2 linked regions of the Homo sapiens genome follow. The gene in region 2 interacts genetically with the main gene of each other region. Each region holds a gene or a part of one and is shown on either strand. Other genes may lie near its edges.

Region 1 (3,990 bases), on a different chromosome or scaffold from region 2:
TATAAACTGAGGTCAAAAAAAGAGTAAGTTATGTGACAACAGAGCTGCAAAAATTGTCAATCTAAAATGTAACAATTCAAACTGTGTAAATGCATGTCAACTGGCTATATTTAATTTTGCTTTCATTTTCAGATTTCTCAAATGTTTTAAACACTTAAAAGATTGTTCATATCTTTTTATAAAGGCTTCAGAATGCACTACTTAGGATTTACATTAAGCATAAAAAACTTCCATCTACCTCTGGGGTATCAATATCTTGAACAGGTGAATCACCTCCATCATCATCACTCCCTTTTCTCTTTCTTCTGTTTCGAACACTCTGAATTAAGTTTTTATGATAATCACATATGTAAAGATGCCTTGCCTGAAACAGAAAAGTTTTACACACTGCTTATGATTACAGTAAAATGTGTCTATGTATTAGTAAAACACATATGCCACAGTGAGTTCTTAAAAATAAAGACAGCCAAGATGGGCCATTGTTAAGATAATGGAATATTTATACGTTTAAATCCTATACGCTAAAACATAAGATGTCTGGAATACTGTTAAAAGGATGGTGGATGGGGAAGGAGGGGTTGGTTCCATCTGGGGAAGGGGGTAAGGGAGGGAGGGAGAGGAGAATGAGAAATTCCAACCCTCTGGGTTTTGTCATCAAATTGCAGTGAGGGGCTGGGCGCGGTGGTTCACGCCTGTAATCCCAGCACTTTGGGAGGCCAAGGCGGGTGGATCACTTGAGCTCAGGAGTTCCACACAAGCCTGGCCAACATAGTGAAATCCCGTCTCTACTAAAAATACAAAAAATTAGGCGGGCATGGTGGCAGTAGCCTGTAATCCCAGCTACTCAGGAGGCTATGGCAGGAGAATCACTTGAACCTGGTGGTTGGAGGTTGCAGTGAGCCGAGATCGCGCCACTGCACTCCAGCCTGGGCAACAGAGTGAGACTTTGTCTTAAATAAATAAACAAACAGATAGCAGTAAGGATGACCTGAATTAGTTCATGTTGAATTTTTAACTGATGAGGGGAAAGATGATGTTGCTCACAGTTTTGCTACTTGACAGTACTTTCTCTACTTAAAAGAACAGCATATTTTAGTAATATAATGTATGCTTTCCAGTCTTTCTAACTGAATACCCAAATTATAGTCCAGATACAAAACCATTCGTTTTCACAAATGAGCCATCGACTTCAAAACTATATTTAAATTTCAGTTATACATTTTTCTGAATATTAAATCAATGTATTTATCTATAACACATTTTTCCAAAACAATCTGAAATTATGCAAGTTCACCTGAAGAGTTTCTCATGGATAACACTGAAAACTGTTTAAACGGGCAAAAAGTGTCACAAATAAACTTTTCAAAAACTTTAATTACATATACTCCTGCGAGCTGTAGACTAGCATTTGAAACAAACACGGACTGAGCTAACAGGCTTTTACATTTACTTCTAAGCCAAGCGCAAGATAAAAATATGCAGGACTTGTGGTAGGTTCTCGATACCATGTTATTCATTTACCGCTAGCCAGATCTCCCAAAAGTAGCAACGGCTGTTTCTAAAAACCTCATAGATGGTCAAACGAAAAGACGTGCAAAAAATCCTGATGGCTGCCAAGGGGATGGCAAAACCGCAGAGGCTACGTGCTCCCCACCATCGGAGTAGCTGCCCTCGGAGCTGACAGCGCAAACGCCGTTTACAACCCCGGCTCACTGCCAGGCGGCGGGTGAGCTCGGCTTCCCTCTCACTCCGCTCCGGAGGAGACGGAACACAGAAAAGAACAGGATCTTCCTTGTTCGTGAAGGTCCTCCGCTTTCTCCTAGACGACGGGATTTAGTACCGCCTGGGGCCAAACACCAGCTTGGGCAGCAAAACAAAGGCGCCTCCATTCCAGAAGAGCTGCCGGGCTGCAAGAAAACTACTCTGGGCCCTCAGTGCGCCGGTCCCCTTTGTTTCGTGTCCCGGTCGCAGAGGAGAAGGAAGAGGGAAGACTGCGCGGGAGAGACGCAGGCAGCGGGAGGTTGGGGGCCAGGGTGGGAAAGAAGAGGGGAACGACAGCCTGTGTGTGGTGTGTGTGTTGGGGTGGCGGTAGGAGTTGCAGCGACTTTGTTATTTGCTTCCAAACACAGACTCCACGAGACCGCACTGCAGCCAGTGCGGTTGTCTGGGGGACCCCGCCGACAACCCGTGCCTTTGCCCGGCTCCTGGGGCCCCACCGAGGGGCGGGAGGGCAGGGCGGTCCCGCGGTTTACTTACGCTCTTATCCAGCTCGATCTTCACCTTCTTCTGGGAGATGCTCTTCTGGATCCTCTTGCTGAAGCTGGCGTTGCCTGCCGCCCGGCCGCACCGCTCACCATCCTCCCGCAGGCAGCACAGTTGCCCGGGGCCCGGCCCGGCCGCCCCCGGGGGCCCAGCCGCTGAGACCGCCCCCGCGCCCGGCACCTCAGCCCCGGTGCCCGCGCCGGTCCCGTTCCCCGCCGAGGCGGCGGCGGCCGCGGCAGCGACCACTGCGGCCACTGCGGCGGCCGCATCCCCGCCGCGGCTCATCTCGTCAGGCGTGAAGCCGTTCATGTCTCCGAGCTCCCGAGGCCGGCGCTGACAGAAATCCCCTCTCTCCTGGCCGCTCCGCCTCTCTCCGCTCCGGCAGCGGCAATTCACTCTGCACACCAAGTTAGACAGCGGCACGGCCAAACACCAACTGTCCCGGGCCTGCTGGTCTCTGCTGGCACCGAAACAGTGGACAGTGCTGAGGGCCGGGACGCAGACTCGAGCGTCTCCTGGAGCGGGGACCCCGCTCACTGTCACATGGGGACTTCAGCAGTTGGACCGCTACGCCTCCGCCTCCCTCCGGCCCCGGGACCTGCGCAAGCGCGACGCGCCCCCTCCCGTCCCGCCCCTTTCTTTCTGCCGCGCGGCCCCATGGGAATTGTAGTTCTCTGCTGCAGAGTCAACCTGAGCTCCGCCCTGACCCCGCGCCATGAGGGACGGAGGAACTACTAATCCTAGCATGCATAGCGCGGCCACGGACCCACTTTTTTTTTTTTTTTTTTTTTTCAGTACCGGGAAAACAGGAGCGTGTGATTGGGGTTTACAGTGTTTTCTCTCGCTCTCTCTGTTTCTAGGGAATTCGGGCTGTGTTTAGCTGCTGGAATATCGTAGAATTGGTTTTCAGAGAAGTTCCTCGACTCCTGAGGCGAAACATAAAGGGATGGGAGTGGTGTGGGAAGTGATCGTGTGGGGAAAAAAAAGTTTCGAGCCCGTTTCGCATTTGTGGAGACAGAGTTTTTGGTGTGACCACTCTTTTGTGGGAAACCCAAACCAAGGAGAACTCAGGAGAATTGGCGCTCTTCGGTCCTGGAGGTTCCGCAGCTAACATCCCGGCTTGACCAACTATCGAGGCCGCAAATTAATAGGGCACCTCCTGGGAGGAAAACGCCCATCCTGACTTCTCAACTGTGACAGGTCCCCCTCACAAACGCCTTGCGGGGGGGTGGGGGGGCGTTTCTAAACACTTGCATGTTCTTACAAGGGAAATGTTTTTATTCTTGGGCGCACCAAGTTGGCCGCCTCCTGAGGTGGAGTACGGACCAGTTGACAACAGGGCTCCTTTTCACCTCCACGCCCAACCTTTTCCATTTCTCCTCAAACGGTTTTGGAGAAGGGCGGAGTCATATCATTTTAAAGGAAACTTGGAACCTCACCAATACAAACGCTGGTCGAATGTTCCCAGAAACTTCCCTGCATTAGCTCTACCGGGCGCGGGGAGCAGAAAGCGCATTTCCTGAGTCCTGAAAAGCGCGTGCGCGCCTGTGTGCTGCCGGCGTTTGGGCGCGCCTGCTTGTATGTATGTGTTCGCGGGCGCGCGCGTGTGTACGTGTGTGTGCGCGCGTACGCGTGTATGTTCCTGCGCGCTTGCGGGGACGTGCTTGTGGAGGGCGGAGAGAGGGATGGGCGTGGCTAATATGAAAGCTGCATCTTTACTAGTTAGCT
Region 2 (3,500 bases):
ACTGTCTTAATGATAATATCCATTAAAAAATGTAACTCAATATTGGCCGGGCGTGGTGGCTCATGCCTGTAATCCCGGCACTTTGGGAGGCCAAGGCGTGCGGATCATGAGGTCAGGAAAGCAAGACCATCCTGGCTAACAAGGTGAAACCCCGTCTCTACTAAAAATACAAAAAATCAGCTAGGTGTGGTGGCGGGCGCCTGTAGTCCCAGCTACTCGGGAAATCGCTTGAACCCAGGAGGCAGAGGTTGCAGTGAGCTGAGGTCACACCACTGCACTCCAGCCTGGGTGACAGAGCGAAACTTCGTCTCGAAAAAAAAAAGAAAAAAAAAAAGAAAAAAAAAATATATATACTGAATATTAACAAAGGTATTAACTGAATTATTTCAGCTACTTGTTAGAATACACTGGATGTGTAACTTTAATAATATATTAACATCATTATGCAGAGACTGTTAAACTGCAAGCCCGGTAAATACATACTTCAGGGCTAAAAGCCATTTAAAAATTTCTGATTACAATATATTCAGGCCGGGAGTGGTGGCTCATGCCTGTAATTCCAGCACTTTGGGAAGTTTAGGCAGGCGAATCACTTGAGGCCAGGAGTTCGAGACCTGCCTGGCCAACATGACAAAACCCAGTCTCTACTAAAAATACAAAAATTAGCCGGGCATGGTGGTGGACGCCTGTAATCCCAGCTACTCTTGAGGCTGAGGTACGAGAATCACTTGAACCCAGGAGGTGGAGGTTGCAGTGAGCCGAGATTGCACCACTGCACTCCAGCCTGGGCGACTGAGCGAGACCCTGCCTCATAACAAACAAAAACAAAACACAAAAAAACCCCAATATTTAAAGAAATAATGCATACAGTTGTCGGGGAATGAACAGTAAATTGTGGGAGTAGTAAACTGGGTAAATCACTTTGGAAAATAGTTTTCTATGAAGTTGACAATGAATACACCATACAACCTAGCAGTTTCACTACACTAGAGAATGTAGTATTTTTGAGACAGGATCTTGCTCTGTTGCTCAGGGTGGAGTGCAGTGGTGTGATCCTAGTTCACTACAGCTTCGAACTCCTGGGCTCAAGCGATCCTCAGCCTCCCAAGTAGCTAGGACTACAGGCATGCGCCACCACACATGGCTGATTTTTAATTTTATTTTTTGATAGAGACAATGTCTCACTGTGTGCCCTGAGTGGTCTTAAACTCCCAGGCTCAAGCGTTCCTCCTGCCTTGGCCTCCCGAAGTGTTGGGACTATGGGTATAGCCACTGCACCTGGCCAGTATTTTATTTTCAATAAGAAAAAAACCCTAAGGCACATATTAGAAAGTGCTAATAGCGTTAAGCCATTTGGGACTGTGAAGAAAGAGTTAATACAGCAGTCTGGGTGCTTAGCCCTGGAGTCTCTGAGGAACACTGGGACCCTATTACTGACCCTTGGCTAACTCCTGGGAACATGCACCTCAGAATGTTCTTTCTGTCACTGATGAACTGATGATTTTGTGGTGTGCACCTGGAGCAATGGACCGCGTTGTACCAGTTTGTCAGGGTTACTCTGCAGATATCAAGATTGATGACACGTACCTTCTTTTATTACTGGGTCCTCAGTTTGTATTACTGGGGTCCTCAAGTTACAGTTGCTGTGGCTGGTTGTCAGCAGGATGTGCCTATGCAACTAGTCCCCCAAGAAAGCCTCAGACCCCAAGACCCAAACAGGCTTCCCTGAGCAGAGATATTTCACACATGTCCCTGCAGTTTGCTGCCGGAAGACACATCCTGTGTGGCCTTGGACAAGACTTGTGCCAGACCTCCCTGAACTTGCCGATGTACATCTTTTTCCTGCTGCTTTTGTGTTCTTTACTGTAACAAACTTTAGCCACAAGTATAATTTGCTCTTGGGAGTCCTAGCAAAATCACCAAACTTGGGGTGGTCATGGGAATACCAAAACAGGAGAGTATATGTTTGACAAATTAAAAAAAGAAAAAAGCAGCCAACAGATTCCTGAATTAACCCTACCACTACTGCCTCTCTCCTCAAACAAAAAATACCCATTGCACACACCAACACATATTACTTTTACCAAAGTGGAATACTGTAATTACACATAGCAGTTAGTCACTTAATTTATCTTGGATACCTTCCTATACCAGTGCCTACAGATTTTTCTCATTAAAAAAAAAAATTTTTTTTTTAAATTTTTGGTAGAAATGAGGTCTGTGTTTTTCAGACTGGGCTTGAACTCCTGAGTTCAAGCAATCCTCCCACCTTGGCCTCCCAAAGTGCTGGGATTATAGGCGTGAGCCATGGCACCTGGCCTTTCTTATTAATTGCTGAGTAGTATTTCAAACATACCATGTGCTTAACCAACTTTCTATGAACCAACATCTGGGTTACAAGGTTGATCCTAATTTTTCAATTCTGCAATTACGACTAAAATCCTTGTGCACATGTGGGTGGGAAGTTCTGTAGAATAAAGTCCTAGAAGTTAAATTACTGGGCCAAAAGCTAATAGTATAGTTTTAATAGCATATGCTTTGAAAGAGACATTTTCCCTTTGACACCAATATTGGAATATATGATATACCTACCACCCTTGTCACTGTCACAATGGGAAGCATCAAACTGTGCATCATCATTGGGAATATGTACTCGAGCAACCACCAGATGATTCTGCTCATCAGACGTATGAGTCCCCAGCACTAGCCAATGAAGGGCATAATCTTTTCCTTCAGGTCTGTTTAAGAAAGAAAATAAGTCACACTAATCCTACAAGAAATCTCCAATTGCTAACAAATTCAGTCTAGTTCCCTCAAAATACATTCATATTTCTTTAGCAAATATATACTTAGCATCAACTGTGTATCTTCTCCCCCTCTGGTTACCAACTTTACAATCCCCACATATGCAAATATAAGAAAATATTCTAGCTACAACATGCAGAGGGCTTGCTTCTTTCCCAAAGAGCCATCCTCCTGTGCCTCAATTATCAGCGTGAACACTACCTTTTATAGAGCAGCACTCCGGGGAAGGTAGGCCCAACTCAGTAAACACAGACAAACATCTACACAGGAATCCACCAACAATCCCCACACTCATAAATCACAACTTCCCACCTAAAGAAATCTTCTTCCCACCTAAAAATATCTTATACACTAGATGTTTCTTATTTCCCAATAAGAAATTCTACAAGGTAGTATGGACAGAAAGTGTTGAATCAAAAAAACTTAGCTTAAATCCTGGATCAAACTAAAATGCAGTTGCTTAAAACACAACCTCCCTGGGGCCTCAGTTTCTTCACTGAATAAAATAGGCTATAAGTGCAAATGGCATGATGTGAAACTCACTGACGTTTATGATACCTAAGTTTATGAAACGAACATTCTCAATTTTACCGAGGTATCTTTGTTACCTTGTTCTGTGGAAACACCTTGAGGCTGAAGAACTTGCCCAAACCTCTTGGCACCTTGGTCCGAGCAGTGATTTTTGCATCAGTATC

Evidence for each region.
Region 1: changes in RBBP7 (region 2) and SAP30 together harm fitness less than expected from each alone (positive genetic interaction), as found in Homo sapiens cells (one large-scale study listed by BioGRID).

What each region holds. Positions count from the first base shown.
Region 1 is NC_000004.12:173,369,764-173,373,753, reverse strand, and holds the start of SAP30 (histone deacetylase complex subunit SAP30), read right to left. Parts: upstream 2,801-3,990; 5' UTR 2,572-2,800; coding exon 2,257-2,571; intron 365-2,256; coding exon 239-364; intron 1-238. UniProt on the Homo sapiens protein: Involved in the functional recruitment of the Sin3-histone deacetylase complex (HDAC) to a specific subset of N-CoR corepressor complexes. Capable of transcription repression by N-CoR.
Region 2 is NC_000023.11:16,860,363-16,863,862, forward strand, and holds part of RBBP7 (histone-binding protein RBBP7), read right to left. Parts: intron 2,739-3,500; coding exon 2,593-2,738; intron 1-2,592. UniProt on the Homo sapiens protein: Core histone-binding subunit that may target chromatin remodeling factors, histone acetyltransferases and histone deacetylases to their histone substrates in a manner that is regulated by nucleosomal DNA.